4 separate regions of the Homo sapiens genome follow, and all the other regions are reported to be linked to region 3. Evidence: microRNA targets listed by miRTarBase, many of them from high-throughput screens and not tested one by one. Region 3 holds a microRNA gene; each other region holds the end of a gene's coding sequence.

The links. Region 3 holds the annotated microRNA hsa-miR-4537 (UGAGCCGAGCUGAGCUUAGCUG, at 2,423-2,444, opposite strand). A microRNA usually pairs through its seed, bases 2 to 8, with sites in the 3' UTR of a target mRNA and lowers its output. Matches are read on the target gene's strand: a 7mer-m8 pairs with bases 2 to 8, a 7mer-A1 pairs with bases 2 to 7 and ends in A, and an 8mer does both.
Region 1: the mRNA of LRRC51 is a reported target of hsa-miR-4537. Seed matches in the 3' UTR shown: 8mer at 883-890.
Region 2: the mRNA of ATAT1 is a reported target of hsa-miR-4537. The part of its 3' UTR that is shown has no 7-base or 8-base seed match.
Region 4: miRTarBase lists GLG1 as a target of hsa-miR-4537. The part of its 3' UTR that is shown has no 7-base or 8-base seed match.

What each region holds. Positions count from the first base shown.
Region 1 is chr11:72,095,188-72,099,187 of GRCh38, forward strand. It overlaps LRRC51 (leucine rich repeat containing 51), which reads left to right. Exons shown (of 6, transcript NM_145309.6): 6 at 192-1,708. The coding sequence ends at 333. The region is part of intron 5 of LRTOMT (leucine rich transmembrane and O-methyltransferase domain containing); the gene reads left to right. LAMTOR1 (late endosomal/lysosomal adaptor, MAPK and MTOR activator 1) reads right to left here. Exons shown (of 5, transcript NM_017907.3): 2 at 3,924-4,000; 3 at 3,594-3,671; 4 at 3,102-3,228; 5 at 2,105-2,727. The coding sequence ends at 2,635. Among named protein-coding and RNA genes, the nearest start is that of LAMTOR1, 6.1 kb to the right of the region's middle.
Region 2 is chr6:30,646,403-30,650,904 of GRCh38, forward strand. It overlaps ATAT1 (alpha tubulin acetyltransferase 1), which reads left to right. Exons shown (of 13, transcript NM_001413067.1): 13 at 67-419. The coding sequence ends at 241. C6orf136 (chromosome 6 open reading frame 136) reads left to right here and starts at 731. Exons shown (of 6, transcript NM_001161376.2): 1 at 731-1,444; 2 at 3,156-3,557. The coding sequence starts at 830.
Region 3 is chr14:105,857,110-105,861,681 of GRCh38, forward strand. MIR4537 (microRNA 4537) reads right to left here and starts at 2,444; the gene lies at 2,375-2,444. MIR4539 (microRNA 4539) reads right to left here and starts at 463; the gene lies at 404-463. MIR4507 (microRNA 4507) reads right to left here and starts at 1,066; the gene lies at 1,015-1,066. MIR4538 (microRNA 4538) reads right to left here and starts at 1,133; the gene lies at 1,056-1,133. It also overlaps IGH.
Region 4 is chr16:74,449,003-74,453,492 of GRCh38, reverse strand. It overlaps GLG1 (golgi glycoprotein 1), which reads left to right. Exons shown (of 26, transcript NM_001145667.2): 26 at 159-4,490. The coding sequence ends at 326. Among named protein-coding and RNA genes, the nearest start is that of CLEC18B, 30 kb to the right of the region's middle.

The DNA of each region.
Region 1 (4,000 bases), not on the chromosome of region 3:
CATGCTTGGACCTGGGAAGGGAGTAACAGACCTCTAAGCATTCCTTGCTCTCAGTCAGGATAAACCTAATCTTTCCCAAACTATGCTCAAGTCCCTCCATTCCTTGCAGTCAGGGAAGACAACAGCAACTAGTGGAGGGGGAAGGGGATTCTGGTGGGGGTGCTGGCCCCCAGCCTAAGTCTTCCCCACAGGCAATATGTGCTGTGCACCCTGTCCCGTATCACCACGTTCGACTTCAGTGGGGTCACCAAAGCAGACCGCACCACAGCTGAAGTCTGGAAACGCATGAACATCAAGCCCAAGAAGGCCTGGACCAAGCAGAATACACTTTGAGGCTCCCACGACCCTAGTAGTCCTAAAGGCCTAAGCATAGACAGCATGGTTTGACAATAAATAATTTGAGCTGTTGAGCAGATGAGAAGTCACTTACACCTTGTAGAGATGTTCTCTAACTCAGGCAACTGCAAGTAGCTCTAGCCTTTTCTTTTCTTTTTTTTTTTTTTGAGACGGAGTCTCACTCTGTCACACAGGCTGGAGTGCAGTGGCACGATCTTGGCTCACTGCAACCTCAGCCTCCCAGGTTCAAGAGATTCTCCTGCCTCAGCCTCCCCAGTAGCTGTGATTAAAGGCGCCTGCCACCATGACTGGCTAATTTTGTTGTTGTTGTTGTTGTTTTGAGACGGTTTCACTCGTCACCCCAGCTGGAGTGCAGTGGTGCGATCTCAGCTCACTGCAACCTCCGCCTGCTGGGTTCAAGCGATTCTCCTGCCTCAGCCTCCTGAGTAGCTGGGATTACAGGCGCCTGCTACCACATCCAGCTAATTTTTTTTTTTGAGACGGAGTCTCGCTCTGTCACCCAGGCTGGAGTGCAGTGGCACGATCTCGGCTCACTGCAAACTCCGCCTTCCAGGTTCACGCCATTCTCCTGCCTCAGCCTCCCAAGTAGCTGGGACTATAGGCACCTACTACCACGCCTGGCTAATTTTTTGTATTTTTAGTAGAGACGGGGTTTCACCATGTTAGCCAGGATGGTCTCCATCTCCTGACCTTGTGATCCACCCACCTCGGCTTCCCCCAGCTAATTTTTTATATTTTAGTAGAGACAAGGTTTCGCCATGTTGGCCAGGCTGGTCTTGAACTCCTGACCTCAGGTGATCCGTCTGCTTTGGCCTCCCAAAGTGCTGGGATTAGAAGCGTGAGCCACCACGCCCAGCCTTTTTTTGTATTTTTAGTAGAGATGGGGTTTCGCCATGTTGGCCAGGCTGGTCTCAAACTCCTGACCTCAGGTGATCTGCCCACCTCAGCCTCCCAAAGTGCTAGGATTACAGGATAAGCCACTGCACCTGGCCAGCTCTAGTCTTATTTTGCTGAAAAAGGGAGGCAATTGAGGGAAAGGCCTGCTGGCCTGGGACACTGGAGACGTGGGTTTACCACACAGCCTTGGGAAATTTATCTAACTCTCTGGGCCCCTTTGTACTTTTCAGCTTAGAGATTTGGGGGTTAAAGTAGATCAGTAATTTCCAAACTCTTCACAGAGTACCAGGGTCTGTAGAGATGCCTCACAGGCCTCCATGACAGGCCAAGAAGATGGCCTATGATCTCTGAAACCAGCCCCCACTTCAATCAGATCAAAGTAATTCCATTCTGTTTTATATGCTGGGATTCTGCTTAAGATTTCATTTGATAAAAAGAATCTTCTGCTTAAAAACATTTGCTTGCTGACTCCATATTAGGTATTCCCAGAAGAGCCTGGTCTGCTTTCTCTCTCCACCCCCCAACCCGCCATGTCTCCCTTCACCCCCAGGGGCTGTTGGTAATTCCATTGAGTCTGAGGCAGGGCCCCCAAGAATCAAAGCTGCCTCAGATTCAGGTCTGTTCAGCTTTGACAGTGTTCCCATCATCACTGGACAAGGGACAAGAACAGTCTCATCCAGTCTGAGGTTAGCCCAAGCCAGGTCTCAGCTAAGAGCTGACACCCTAAACCCTTGTCTCTTGGGTTCATCTTCAATATCCCTGGAAGATGTCCCCTTCCCCCCATCTTACTCTCATAGACCTAAGTAATCAAAAGTAGAATGGGTAGAACAGAGGGGCCAGAACCAGCACATGGATGAATATACTTCCTTTATCGAGGGTGACAAACCAAAACAAAAAAAGACCAAACATGTAAAAACCCAGGGTTCTAGAAATACAAACTCAATTCATTCAAATTCAAGCTCATCCAGACCCTGGTCACAAACCCTAGTGAGGTGCATGTGAGCACCAAGTCAGGGAGAGGGGGCAGGAGTGACTCTGAGGCCAACAGAGAGGGTGGGAAGGGGATCTCCCTAGGTCCCCTGGTGATCACCCCCCACCCAAACTGGTATCTCCACATTCTCAATGACTATGAAGACATACCAGGCTCTGTCCTTTTGGCCCCCACCCCATCCCTGGCCAGAGCTTCAAAGGCCAGTCCCAAAAGGTTCTACCCTCACTTGCTCAGGCTTCTAGCCTTCCTCTTCTCCTCCTTCTTCACATTTTTCTCTGTGATTAGTAGCAGGTTAGGGTACTGTATAAGCCGCAGTGAGGCTGGGGGCCAAGGGGGTGGGGTAGAGATGGGATGAAGAGAGGAGAAGAGCTGTCCAAGGACCCCTCTCTTCATGGGATCCCAAACTGTACAACCAGCTCCTCTTTTGCGTCCACACGGATCTGAGAAAGTGCACTGTAGGCATAAGCAGCTATCCTGGAGACCTGAGACAGAGAGGGGCCGGGGAGGAGAGGAACAGAGACAGGTGAGGAGGGCAATCAGGAAAAATGGGGAGGGGAGATTAGATGGTGATGGAGAAGGAGGGAATGAAGGGGAACAGGAAGGCAAAGAGAAAGACAGGGATGGGAGAGACAGAAGGAAAAGAACAAAGGGGAGTGAAACAATAAAGGTTGCAGGAAGGAGATAGGAAAGACATAAAAAGTTAAGAGAACGAGGTGGGAGGGAGCTGGGGCCTACAAGGCTACCAGGCTCCCTAACTCCACCTTCCCTACCTCCTCTGAGGCAGAGTGGGTGAACCCTCTGCCATACCCTGGGCAGTGTGAGAAGGGTGGGCAGGGGCAGGTGAGGGGTGTCTCACCTGCTGCAAATCAGAGAACGGGATGGGCTCACTGGCCAGCACTTGGTGGGGCTGGCTGGTAAGAGACGGCAGCGGTGGCAGCTTCTTCCAATGGGTCAGGCTGCTGCTCAGCACAGCCAAGCGGGTGCTGACCAAGAGAGAGGGGGTGGGGGTAGGCAGTTAAGCCACAGTCTGCCCTGCCCAGCCCAGGTAAGCCTCATCCCCTCAGGCCAGAGAAGCAGGGTGTCGAGGAGGGGTATCTGGGAGGGAAGGTCTCAGCTCATCACAGACTCAATCTAGGCCCATCTCCCTTGGCCTCAGCGCCCTCAAGAGTGTCACAGGGTAAACAGGGCTGACATGAATAACTACTGAAGCACCCAAGTGATCTGTGGTCAGTCTCCAGGGCTGCACCAAATGAGAAGCTTGGACTAGGGGCCAGGCTCCAAAGCTGGAACAGTGATGGAGGGTGGGAGCCCAAGTAGCCTGAGGGACCCACGCTGGCCAGGTGCTCACCTGTACTGCCTGGCACGGTCCATGTACTCATGCTGCTCCATGCCCTGTGAGTCTGCAGCAGACACATCAATGATGTTGCTATGGGGAGAGGAGACAGAGATGACATGACAGGTGCTTCCGAGAAGGACAAACAGGACTCAGTGCCAGGTACCAACTCCAGGGCTATCTGACACCAGTTTCCCTCCTGCCTACTGGAGCAGGGCTGGACATGGAGGCACCTCTCCCCAGTGACCTTGTCCCATCCCCCATGTCCTGAGCCTGGCTCCTTCTATCCTAGCCTTTAATATGGATAGAGGAGCTCTGACCCAGGCCTGGTCCTCTGACACTTACCTGGCTGTCTTGGCAAGGATGGAAGAGAGCAGGGCCTGCTCATCAGTGCGAGCGGAAGGCAGGCTGTGGTAGTTGGG
Region 2 (4,502 bases), not on the chromosome of region 3:
GAGTCTGTAATCTTAATTTCCTCTTTAGTATTCCTATAACCCACTCTCCATCTCCCCACCTACCAGGTCTGCCAGTGAGGAGCAGGCCTTGTCACAGGATGGGTCTGGGGAGAAGCCCATGCACACAGCTCCTCCACAGGCCCCGGCCCCGCCAGCCCAGTCCTGGACAGTGGGTGGGGACATACTCAACGCCAGGTTCATTCGAAACCTGCAGGAACGTCGCAGCACCAGGCCTTGGTGACCGCAGCCCCGTCAAACATCTTCAAAGTATTATTTCTCCCTCACTACAGGAAAGAGCCAAAGCCCAACCCTCATAATAGATGGATACATTCATTCATTCATTCATTCAGCAGGCTTATCAGATTCAAGTCATTTGTATCTTTTAACCAGACCAATAAAAGTATTTATTTTTATCACAAGAGCTGTTGAAAAATTTGACTCATTATTTCAGCCGCCTCACCCCTCACTGTCGTTGCACCCATTCAGCCTTCAGCCCTGTTTTTGCTCAGCTTTTTGCTCAAAGGCCTCAGCTGTGAATACAGCGCTTGGGGGGGCGGGGGAGGCTGTAACTTGCGCAAGCGCACTCAGGCAGTCTCCGAGCCCGCGGGCGCAGGCGCGCTTACAGCCGACAGAGCGCTTCAGCCGCTTCCCTCGAGCCTGCAGTGCGCAAGCGCGGGACATCTCCGTTTCCCTCCCTCAGCCCCTTCCCCCCCTACCCCCCCGCCCCGGCCTCCTTTCCCCTTCACGAAGCCGGCTCTGGGGCGCGCTCACCCCTGTGAGGAGGCCGGAGGTCGGACTCAGGAGGCTCCTTCTCCACTCCCGGAAGATCATGTACCAGCCCAGCCGGGGTGCGGCCCGGCGTCTCGGCCCTTGCCTGCGCGCCTACCAGGCTCGACCCCAGGTGAGCGGAGGAGAAGAGGGAGGGAGGAGAGGGGGCGGGGAGAGACCCTCCTCAAAGCCGGTGCGTGGGGCGGAGCGCGCGCTGGGTTCCGCGCAGGCGCAGAGACACCCGCCGCCCCTTCCCACCTGTGCCCTGCAGCGCGTGGACAGGCTAGGGGTCGCGGGAGCGGGAGGGAGGCGCTGCCGGGCCTGTCGCGCAAGGACGTCGGTCCTCCCAGGTTTGAGGGCGGTCAGGCGGGGTCAAGGCCAGGCAGCGGGGCGCGTCTGCGTTGCGCCCGACTCTCCGCGGTTACCTGTGCCTAGAGGTGATTTGAAGGGCAGGGGCCGAGAGATTCGTAGCCCTGCTGCGGCGCCGTCCCGGAGTTCCCCGGCCCAGACCAGACCCGCGGGGCGCCCTCAGCAGCCCGCCCGTCTTGCACTCGGAGAGCGGTCCTGGCAGGAAGGCCGGCCAGTGTGCACCCGGTTCGGGCCCCTGCGCCCGGGCTGGCAAGATGGCCACGCCCCCAGCAGAGACGGCGCCTCTAGGACACCATCGGGGACCGAGGTACCCGAGCGGTCCGCCCGCCTTCCCTGCAGTGAGACGATCCCCTGGGGGGTTCCTTGGGAGCGGAGGGACTCGGGTGAGGCCTAACTTTGGGTGACCTCCCCTTGCAGTTTCAACGTCGGTAAACCCAGGAGAGTGAAGGCCAGCCTTTAACTGTCTCCTGAGGTTGTGTCTGTCATTAGAGGGGCCCGAAATGATAATAGCTTCCATTTATGTACTGCTTTCTAGGTCGCTACGTTTTGTTTACATTCATTATTTCATATAGGCCTCATAACCCAGTGAGGCTTTATTGTTCTCATTTATAGGACATTTGTAGGAAGCGGAGGCATAGGGAATGAGAATGCCTAAAGTTACATGATAGAATTCAGATTCCTAGCTTCAGCTGGATATTCTTTTTTCTCTGTACATTTGCCTCGCACACTTAATCATGGAGATGTACAGGCCACAGCATTTAATCCACAGTACAATAAAACCTGTTATTCGTTAACTCATCAAGTATGTATTACATGATTCTTGCGATAAGAGAGGTGAAACTGCCCCCAGTGTTGGAATCTTTTTTTTTTTTTTTTTGAAATGGAGTCTTGCTCCGTCACCCAGGCTGAAGTGCATTGGCACCATCTCGGCTCACTGCAATCTCCGTCTCCTGGGTTCAAGCAATTCTCCTTCCTCAGCCTCCCGAGTAGCTGGGACTACAGGCTCCCGCCACCACACCCGGCTAATTGTTTTGTATCTTTAGTAGAGATGGGGTGTCACCATATTGGCCAGGCTGGTCTCGAACTCCTAGACCTCGTGATCCGCCCGCCTCGGCTTCCCAAAGTGCTGGGATTACAGGCGTGAGCCACCGCGCCCGGCCACATTTCTTTAAGATTCCAACACTGGGCCGGGCACGGTGGCTCACGCCTGTAATCCCAGCACTTTGGGAGGCCGAGGTGGGCGGATTACCTGAGGTCAGGAGTTCGAGAACAGCCTGGCCAACATGGTGAAACCCCATCTGTAACTAAAAATACAAAAATTAGCCGGGCGTGGTGAAGGGTGCCTGTAATCCCAGCTACTCGGGAGGCTGAGGCAGGAGAATGGCTTGAACCCAGGAGGCGGCGGTTGCAGTGACCCGAGTTCGCGCCAATGCACTCCAGCCTGGGCGACGGTGAGACTTCGTCTCAAAAAAAGAAAAAAAAGTAAAATGTCTGCTAGGTTTTGGGAGGTGCCGGTATTTATGTCACATAAAACAGTTTGCTCGGCTGGGCGCGGTGGCCCACGCCTGTAATCCCAGCACTTTAGGAGGCAGAGGCGGGTGGATCACGAGGTCAAGAGATGAAAACCATCCTGGCTAACATGGTGAAATCCTGTCTCTACTAAAAATACAAAAACTAGCTGGGCATGGTGGCGCGCGCCTGTAGTCCCAGCTACTCAGGAGGCTGAGGCAGGAAAATCACTTGAACCCGGGAGGCGGAGGTTGCAGTGAGCTGAGATCGTGCTACTGCACTCCAGCCTGGCAACAGAGCGAGACTCCATCTCAAAATAAATAATAAAATAAAATGGTTTCCTCCTGTTTTCAGTAGAGATGGAGATGAATCCATCCCTTTTTTCCTATAGTAATTCCATCCATTCTGTCAGGAGGAATAGGTATTGGAAGCCTGTTGAGCATCCAGGGGATCAAGGGGTGTTAGACAAGTGGATTCTTATCTTTCTCCCTTCTGTTCTTTCTCCTTAGGACCAGCTTTATCCAGGGACTCTACCATTCCCACCCCTTTGGCCCCACTCCACGACAACCACTTCCCCATCTTCTCCTCTATTCTGGTCTCCCCTGCCCCCACGCCTTCCCACCCAGCGTCTTCCCCAGGTTCCCCCACTACCTCTCCCTCAGATCCAGGCCCTCAGCTCAGCATGGGTGGTTCTCCCTCCAGGAAAGGGGGAGGAGGGACCAGGACCTGAGTTGCATAGCGGCTGCCTGGATGGGCTTAGAAGCCTTTTTGAGGGACCTCCCTGCCCCTATCCTGGGGCTTGGATACCTTTCCAAGTCCCTGGAACTGCCCACCCTTCCCCTGCCACCCCGTCAGGAGATCCTAGTATGGAGGAACATCTGTCTGTCATGTATGAGAGACTGAGACAAGAGGTAAGTCAGTGCAAAAGTGGCCTTCGTCTACAGTGGGAAGGATGTGGGTAATCCTTGGACGTACAGGGATAGTCAACTGGATTCTTTTTTGGAACCATGAGGCAGGCATAGAAATATATTATAAACATTTTCCTGAGAAAATGATGTTCCAGCCAGGCACGGTGGCTCAAAGTGCTGTAATCCCAGCACTTTGGGAGGCTTAGGCAGGTGGATCACCTGAGGTCAGGAGTTCAAGACCAGCCTGGCCAACATGGTGAAACCCCATCTCTACTAAAAACACAAAAATCAGCCAGGCATGGTGGCAGACGCCTATAATCCCAGCTACTCAGGAGGCTGAGGCAGGAGAATCGCTTGAACCCAGGAGGCGCAGTGAAAGGAGATATCTCCATTGTACTCCAGCCTAGGCAACAGAGCGAGACTCCGTCTCAAAAAAAAAAAAAAGAAAGAAAATGATGTTCCTCATTTTGGGTTAAGGGAGGTTAATCATGGGATGAGATCTTTCACTCCAAGATGGGAGTAAGGAGGCCTTAAAAATAGAAAACTGGGCCTGGCACATGGCTCACGCTTATAATCCTAGCACTTTGGGAGGCCGAGGCAGGCGGATCACAAGGTCAGGAGTTCAAGACCAGCCTGGCCAACACAGTGAAACCCCGTCTCTACTAAAAATACAAAAATTAGCTGGGCATGGTGGTGGGTGCCTGTAATCCCAGCTACTCGGGAGGCTGAGGCAGGAGAATCGCTTGAACCTGGGAGGCGGAGGTTGCAGTGAGCCGAGATTGTACCTCTGCACTCCAGCCTGGGCGACAGAGCTAGACTCCATCTCAAGCCTGTAATCCCAGCTACTCGGGAGGCTGAGGCAGGAGAATCGCTTGAACCTAGGAGGCGGAGGTTGCAGTGAGCTGAGATTGTACCTCTGTACTCCAGCCTGGGCGACAGAGCTAGACT
Region 3 (4,572 bases):
TCAGACCACCTAAGACCATCTCAGCTCAGCCCAGCCCAGCTAAGCCCAGTATAGCCCAGCCCAGCTAAGCCCAGTATAGCCCAGCCCAGCTAAGCCCAGTATAGCCCAGCCCAGCTAAGCCCAGTTTAGCCCAGCCCAGCTAAGCCCAGTATAGCCCAGCCCAGCTAAGCATAGTTCAGCACAGCCCAGCTCAGCTCAGCACAGTTCAACCCAGCTCAGCCCAGCTCAGTGCAGCACAGCCCAGCTTAGCCCAGCCCAGCCCAGCTCAATCCAGCCTGGCTCAGCCCAGCCCAGCCCAGTTTGGCTCAACCCAGCTTGGCTCAGCCCAGGTCAGCCTGGCTCAACTCAGCCCAGCCCAGCCCAGCTCTGCTCAACCCAGCTCTGCTCAACTCAGCCCGGCTCAGCCCAGCTCAGCCCAGTTCAGCTCAGCCCTGCTCAGCACAGCACAGCAGAGCTCAGCTCAGCCCAGCTCAGCTCAGTTCAGCTCAGCCCTGTTCAGCACAGCACAGCAGAGCCCAGCCCAGCCCAGCCCAGCTCATCCCAGCTCAGCCCAGCCCAGCCTAGCTTAGCTCAACCCAGCTCAGCACAGTTCAGCTCAGCCCTGCTCAGCACAGCACAGCAGAGCCCAGCTCAGCCCAGCTCAGCTCAGTTCAGCTCAGCCCTGTTCAGCACAGCACAGCAGAGCCCAGCCCAGCCCAGCTCAACCTAGCCTGGCTCAGCCCAGCCCAGCCCAGCCCGGATCGGCTCAACCCAGCTTAGCTCAGCCCAGGTCAGCCCAGCTTAACTCAGCCCAGGTCAGCCCAGCTTAACTCAGCCCAGCCCAGCCCAGCTCAGCCCCCAGCTCTGCTCAACCCAGCCCAGCTCAGCTCAGCTCCGCTCAGCCCAGTTCAGCCCAGCTCAGCCCAGCCCAGCCTAGCTTGGCTCAACACAGCTCAGCTCAGCCAGCCCAGACCAGCTCAGCTCAGCCCAGTCCAGCTCAGCTCAGCCCAACCCAGTCCGGCTCAGCCCAGCCCAACCCAGCCCAGCCCAACCCAGCTCGGCTTAACCCAGCTCGGCTCAGCCCAGATCAGTCTGGCTCAACTCAGCCCAGCCCAGCTCAACCCAGCCCAGTTCAGCCCAGCTCATCCAAGCTCAGCTCAGCCCAGCCCAGTTCAGCCCAGCCCAGTTCAGCTCAGCTCAGCCCAGCCCAGTTCAGCCCAGCCCAGTTCAGCTCAGCTCAGCTGAGCCCAGCCCAGCCCAGTCCGGCTCAGCTCAGCCCCGCCCCACTCAGCCCAGCTCAGCTCAGCCCAGCTCAGCCCAGCTCAGCTTAGCCCAGCTCAGTTCAGCCAGGCACAATCTGGCTCAGCCCAGCCCAGCCCAGCTCAGCCCAGCCCAGCCTAGCTCAGCACAGCCCAGTTCAGCTCAGCTCAGCTTAACTCAGCTCAGCTCAGCTCAGCCCAGCCCAGCCCAGGTCAGCTCAGCCCAGCCCAGCCCAGCCCAGATCATCCCAGCTCAGCTCAGCTCAGCTCGGCTTAGCCCAGCTCAACCTGGCCCAGCCTGGTCCAGGTCAGCCCAGCCTGGACCACCCAGCCCAGCTCAGCTCAGCCCAGCTCATCCTGGTTCAGCTCAGCTCAACCCGGCTCAGCCCAGGTCTGCTCAACCCAGCCCAAATCAGCTCAGCCCAGCCCAGGTCATCCCAGCTCAGCCCAGCACAGCCTACTTCAGCTCAGCTCAGCTCAGCCTAGGTCAGCTCAGTTGAGGTCAGCTCAACTCAGCCCAATCCAGCCTGGCTCAGCCCAGCTCACCCTAGCTCAGCTTAGCTCAGCCCAACTCAACCCAGCCCAGCCTTGCCCAACCCAGCTCAGCTCAGCCCAGCCCAGGTTAGCCCAGCCCAGCCTCGGCTTAGCTCTGCTCAGCTCGGCCCTGCTCGCCTCAGCCCGTTCAGCCCAGTTCAGCTCAGCTCAGCTCAGCCCAGCTCAGCCCAGCCCTGGTTAGCTCAGCCCAGCTAAGCTCAGCTCGGCTCGGCTCTGCTGAGCTTGGCCCAGCTTGGCTTAGCCTGATACAACCTGCTCAGCCCAGTTCAGCTCGGCTCAGCCCAGCCCAGCCCAGCGTAGCTCAGCTCAGCTGAGCCCAGCCCAGGTTAGCTCAGCCCCAGTCCAGGTCAGCTCAACTCAGCCCAAACCAGCCTGGCTCGGCCCAGCTCACCCTAGTTCAGCTTAGCTCAGCCCAGCCCAGCCCTGCCCAACCCAGCTCAGCTCAGCCCAGCCCAGGTTAGCCCAGCCCAGCCTCGGCTTAGCTCTGCTCAGCTCGGCCCAGCCCAGGTTAGCCCAGCCCAGCCTCGGCTTAGCTCTGCTCAGCTCGGCCCTGCTCGCCTCAGCCCGTTCAGCCCAGTTCAGCTCAGCTCAGCTCAGCCCAGCTCAGCCCAGCCCTGGTTAGCTCAGCCCAGCTAAGCTCAGCTCGGCTCAGCTCTGCTGAGCTCGGCCCAGCTTGGCTCAGCCCGACACAGCCTGCTCAGCCCAGTTCAGCTCGGCTCAGCCCAGCCCAGCCCAGCGTAGCTCAGCTCAGCTGAGCCCAGCCCAGGTTAGCTCAGCCCCAGCCCAGGTTAGCTCAGCCCAGCTCAGCTCTGCCCAGGTTAGCTCAGCCCCAGTCCAGGTTAGCTCAGCCCAGCTCAGCCCTGCCCAGGTTAGCTCAGCCCAGCTAAGCTCAACTTGGCTCAGCTCAGCCTAGCTTGGCTCAGCCCAGCACAGCACGCTCAACCCGGTTCAGCTTGGCTCAGCCCAGCCCAGCCCAGCCTAGCTCAGCTCAGCCCCGCTCAGCCCAGCCTAGCTCAGCTCAGCCCCGCTCAGCCCCGCTCAGCCCAGCCCAGCCCAGCCTAGCTCAGCCCAGCTCAGCCCAGCCTAGCCCAGCTCAGCCCAGCCCAGCTCAGCGCAGCCCAGCCCAGCTCAGCGCAGCCCAGCTCAGCTCAGCTCAGCCTAGCCTTGCTCAGCCCAGCTCAGCTCAGCCCAGCTCAGCCTAGCCTTGCTCAGCCCAGCTCAGCCCAGCTCAGCCCAGCTCAGCCCAGCCCAGCCTAGCTCAGCTCAGCCCCGCTCAGACCCGCTCAGCCCAGCCCAGCCCAGCCCAGCTCAGCCCAGCCCAGCTCAGCTCAGCCCAGCCCTGCCCAGCTCAGCCCAGCTCAGCCCAGCTTAGTGCAGCCAAGCCCAGCTCAGCTCAGCTCACCTGGTGCAACTTAGCCCAGCTCAGCTCAGCTCAGCTCAACCCAGTTCAACTCAGCCCAGTTCAGCTCAGCTCAGCCCAGTTCAGCCTTGTTTAGTCTAGGTCAGCTTAGGTCAGTTTTGCCCATCTGAGTCCATTTCTGAAAGCTGGATGGAGTTGTCATGGCCAGAAATGGTCAGCCCACCAGACCTGCTTGTCTCAGCTAAAGCCATCTCATTGCCGGGTTCCTGCACAGCCAGGCTGGCTTCCATCTTTTGTCTCCCTCTACTTGATACCCCAGTTCCCTGCAGTCCTGCCCCAGCGCCACCTGGGTTTTGGTTCCAAAGCATTACCAATCATTACCACCCTCCACTACCTGGGTGGAATATTTCTTTGCTGCTTTAAAGTCATTAAAACATCTTGAGAATGAGACCAAGAATTTAGGAGCCTGTGCTGTGATAAAAATGAGCAGGTCCCCTTGCTCTAGAAGTGGCAGCATATCTTCTGCACCAAGAGGAGGGTATTGAGATGCTCAGAGCCTCCACCTTCCCGGAGCATCCCCTCCCTTCTGAGTCTGCAGTAAACCCCTGCCTTTAAATTCCCTCTAGATAACAGTCATCATTGGAAACAACCAAGAAATGCATTTTATCTGAATTTGCCACTTAAAATTCTGCCATTTACCATAAATCGCTTTGGAAGGCATGGGCTACTTTCAAGGGTGCGATGATGACCTACAGTCAATGACTTAGACAAGGGCGATGCCAGTGGGGCTTGGTATGTTCTCAAGCATCATTACCCATGCCATCCCCATTCAGAGGTTGTGGAGCAGCTCGTGCGACCTCTCCTTCAAATGGGCTTTAGGGAAAGTTAAATGGGAGTGACCCAGACAATGGTCACTCAAAAGACTCACATAAATGAGTCTCCTGCTCTTCATCAAGCAATTAAGACCAGTTCCCCTTCTAGTGGAAATAAGACGTCAAATACAAAGTTTTAAGAGAAGCAAATGCAGCAGCGGCGGCTGCCTGTCTCTTACCATGTCGGGCGCCTGGTCACTGCGAGCCTTGCAAAGCTTTGGCATGGAATCATTCCTCCAAGTCCATTAACAAGGGCTGGGGCCTGAGCAGCCAGTCGGCCCGGCAGCAGAAGCCACGCATCCCAGCTCTGGGTAGTCCGGGGAGACCCAAAGCCCAGGCCGGGCCTGGCAGCCACCCTCCCAGAGCCTCCGCTAGGCCAGTCCTGCTGACGCCGCATCGGTGATTCGGAACAGAATCTGTCCTTCTAAGGTGTCTCCACAGTCCTGTCTTCAGCACTATCTGATTGAGTTTTCTCTTATGCCACCAACTAACATGCTTAACTGAAATAATTCAGGATAATGATGCACATTTTACCTAAAACTTATCC
Region 4 (4,490 bases), not on the chromosome of region 3:
AGAGTTGTAGCTCTGTGTTGATTTTTCTTATCTCCTGCCCTCCCTCTCCAAAAGAAAAGACATAAATTAAACTAGGAACTGAGAGGGATAAGTTAGACCTAGCACTGCCACCAGCCCAGTGCTCTCTCAGAGAATCACATTGCCTTGTGTCATTCTAGGTGGCCCCAGCAGATGGCTTCTCTGATCTTGCCATGCAAGTAATGACGTCTCCATCTAAGAACTACATTCTCTCTGTGATCAGTGGGAGCATCTGTATATTGTTCCTGATTGGCCTGATGTGTGGACGGATCACCAAGCGAGTGACACGAGAGCTCAAGGACAGGTAGAGCCACCTTGACCACCAAAGGAACTACCTATCCAGTGCCCAGTTTGTACAGCCCTCTTGTATAGCATCCCCACTCACCTCGCTCTTCTCAGAAGTGACACCAACCCCGTGTTAGAGCATTAGCAGATGTCCACTGCGTTGTCCCATCCAGCCTCCACTCGTGTCCATGGTGTCCTCCTCCTCCTCACCGTGCAGCAGCAGCAGCTGGTCGCTGGGGTTACTGCCTTTGTTTGGCAAACTTGGGTTTACCTGCCTGTAGACAAGTCTCTCTCATACCAACAGAACTTCCGGTACTTCCAGAACCAACTCACCTGACCTGCAACTCAAAGGCTTTTTTAAGAAAACCACCAAAAAAAAAAATTTTTTTAAAGAAAAAAATGTATATAGTAACGCATCTCCTCCAGGCTTGATTTGGGCAATGGGGTTATGTCTTTCATATGACTGTGTAAAACAAAGACAGGACTTGGAGGGGAAGCACACCACCCAGTGTGCCATGACTGAGGTGTCTCGTTCATCTCTCAGAAGCACCTTGGGGCCTCGCCAGGGCCGTGGTCTTCACCGAGGCGTGGGTGGGCAGCCGTTCCCCAGGCTGTGTGGGGTCCTGCTTTCTTCTGCTGAGACAGTGACGCTTTCCAGTTTCCACCCTAATCAGCCACTGCTGGTCACAGCCCCACAGCCATGGGTATTTCTGTGGTCTCCTCGCTTCATTGAAGCAAAGCATGAGCCTTCCTAGACAAGGGCAGCTGGGGAGGGGAAGGGACCGGAAGTTTGTGAAGTTGAACAGTCCATCCATCTGCACTGAGAGGCTGGATCCTGAGTCCCGGGGCAGCAGGATCCCAGGAACCTTCCTCCTCCAGGGCAGCACAGGACTCAGCCATGTCTGGACCGGCCCTGCTGAGGCTACAGTCACTCTGGAAGCTCTGCGCTTCATCAGGAGGCAGGACTGTGGCGGGAGGGGTCCTTGAAGATGGGTGTGGGGAGCAGTGGGTCAGGAAGTGGGAGCCAGAGGTTTGACTCACTTTGCTTTATTTTTCAGGCTACAATACAGGTCAGAGACAATGGCTTATAAAGGTTTAGTGTGGTCTCAGGATGTGACAGGCAGTCCAGCCTGACCTTTCTGCACACTCCAGACAAACTTCCCAGACAAGCTCCTTTGTGCCTCTACGTGGAGAGGGTGTGGAAAGTTATCACATTAAAAGATGGAGGATTTGCTCTGTTTTTTTTCTTTCTGTCCATTTGCTGCGTGTACCCACTCTAGTAGGCATTGGCTAAATGTTGTATTTTGGCGATTCATCAACCTTTGCAGAATATGGGCTTTATAGAAGCAATATTCTTGGCCATCCCGCCTCATTCCTCCAGTGTGGAGATGACAAGTCTGGGTGTGAGAGGGAGGGGTCCGGGCATCATGGTTCAGCGTGGCACTCCTTTGGTTGAGTTTGGGGCATGAGATCACAGTGGCTGCACAAGAGAGCAGTGTGTACAGTAGGAGAGACATTTATGTAATATATATTTTATTAACCTGTTAGATGTCCACAAAGTATTATAAATCACGTGCCTAAAACTGTCCATGTAGACCAAGGCCTGCCCTCGGCGCCCCCCACTCTTGCCTCTGCTCTGCACAGTCCACGTGCACTGCAGGACCGGAGCGACACATGTCTTCCCTGAAGGGTGTTCAGTACAAGGCGTGTCAGTTTGTGGATCAGTTGATCCAAGTTACTCCTTGTCTAACCTGACTGACATATATTTGAATACTGTGGTTTTCTTTCTTTTTTTTCTATTTGCTGCCCTTCCTGGAGGCAGTGGGTTCCAGAAGCCAACTGATTGTCCCCCTGCCAAGTCACCAAGGGAAGCTGCTAAGCTGCTTAGTCCCCTCGGTCCTGCTTGTAGGGTCTTCCTGATTGTCAACAGCTGTCTGGGATGCTTCAGTCTCCTAAAACTGGAAACGCAGGGTGCGAGCAGCACACACTGCCTCCCGCCACTGCCAGCCGGAGTGAGCGGCCCGAGAGTCTCTGCAGGTTCCCCTGGGGGCTGGGGGCCGCTGAGGCCTAATATCAAGAGCCAGGAATGTCATGTACATGGAGGTGCCTACGGACGTGCCTGGTGTGGTTTGCAGGTAGGATGGATGTTCACTGTTTGACCGGGTGGGGTATCCTTCCTCTCTGCAGTCTCCTTCCCAGTATGCGTAAACACCCTTATAGTTCTAATTGTGTTGATATTTCTGTTCTTTCTGAATTGAGAGAAAATCCCATTCGTTGTCTGCAGATTTGGAAGTTTGATGAGGAATTTGGTTCTTGAAACATCTGTCTTTTTTTTTTTTTTTGAGACAGAGTATCTCTCTGTTGCCCAGGCTGCAGTGCAGTGGCGCGATCTCAGCTCCCTGCAACCTCCACCTCCTGGGTTCAAGCAATTCTCTGCCTCAGCCTCCTGAGTAGCTGGGATTCCAGGCACCCGCCACCACGCCTGGCTTATTTTTGTATTTTTAGTAGAGATGGGGTTTCACCATCTTGGCCAGGCTGGTCTTGAACTCCTGATCTCATGATCCACCCGCCTCAGCTTCCCAAAGTGCTGGGATTACAGGTGTGAGCCACCCTGCCTGGCCAAAACATTTGTCATCTTTATAAATGGTCAGAATAGAAAAGTTAGCTCTGCCAGTATCTTCAATTACTTATTACAAGAATGTCTTTCATCATCTTACTTGGAGCATTTTCCAATGACTGGCTCTTGAGAGCCCCAGGCAGGGCCCCGAGCAAGTTTTTCTAAGTGCCAAGGCCAGCAAAGTCTGAACTGGCCGCACTCATTAAGTCCCTCATTTGGCAAAACAAAACAGGGCCTGGGGCACCCCTGGTTCCTGGCCTTATAGGTCAGTCAACTGGCTGAGAAATGGTCAAGAAAAGAAACAATGACCCTTCTGTGGATGTGAGTGGATGATGGACTCTGGCCTGTGTCTACTCTCCTGATGTGTAGCCCACCAACAGTAATAGAAGTAGAGGGTAGGGGGTTTTGCCAAGGCTAAGGCTTCAGGTACTTGCTAACAGTTATAGCAGCTGGGTCACTGTCATCTGGACTTACCAGTTCATGCCAGTGTCCCTGTGACTTATGCATAGTGTGCGCCACAGCCCTCTAGAGGTACCTGGAGCCCGGACTGCCAGGCTGGAGGCTCTGGGGTACTGAAGGTGAGCTGTCTGGGCAAACTATTAAGAACAAGACGAACTGTTCACAATGGAGCTTCTCCCACAGATGGGGAGCTCTGTGAGGCCTTCACCTGGGTGCATGTTGGACTTCCATTGCTGTTGCTGTTGTCCCTAGACAAGCCCGTTAGCAAGAAGCACCGGCAGGGGAGCCATGCACTCCATAGGCTTGGGATCACCCCCGGGAAAGCGATCTTCCCCGGGCTACCACCCCCAGCTGCAGTTCTGTGTTAGTGCATCCTTCAAAGCTAGGAGAATTCTAGGGTGACCAGTGAGCTAATGTTGAGTGAGCAGGTATTGACTTGAACACACTGCAGGCCTTTGGCTGTCTCATGCTGTCCTTACTCTTCTTGGGAACAGTGAGTCACTCAGCTGGCCAGGGTGGGGATGCATCCTGGTGAAGAGACAGCTTTCCCTGAAGATGCTACAGAAAGTTACTGTCAGATTTCATTTGTTTCTGTTTCCTGAGATCAACTAACAGAAGAATCTAATGGTGAGAGTGTCTTCATTCATGTTTTACGTTTTATCAAGGCACACTGGAAAGGGAATTATGTGGCTGACTTCCCTTGGCCTTCCCAAGAGAAGATTCTGTTCTTATGTCAGTGTGGCTTCTGGAAGTGTCTCCTATCCTCCCATCCTCCAGGCCTGTGGTGTGACTTCTGCCCCGAAGTTCCTACTATAGTGAGTCATCTGGGGAGAGGCCACTGAAAAGAGGCCTTCCCTTCCCATTTCCTCCCCTGCCTCCTTAGAACACACTCTAAGTCAGAACTTAATCTAAGAAGAAGGAAGCTGGACCAGGAACCTTGGAAGTCAGCCAGCCCTAGAACAGTCAGCCTAAATTTTGGCCGTAATGGCTTTTTTGGTTTTTTGTTTTGTTTCTGAGATGGAGTCTCACTCCGTTGCCAGGCTGGAGTGCTGTGGCGCTATCTCAGCTTACCGAATCCTCCGACTCCCTGGTTCAAGCGATTGTCCTGCCT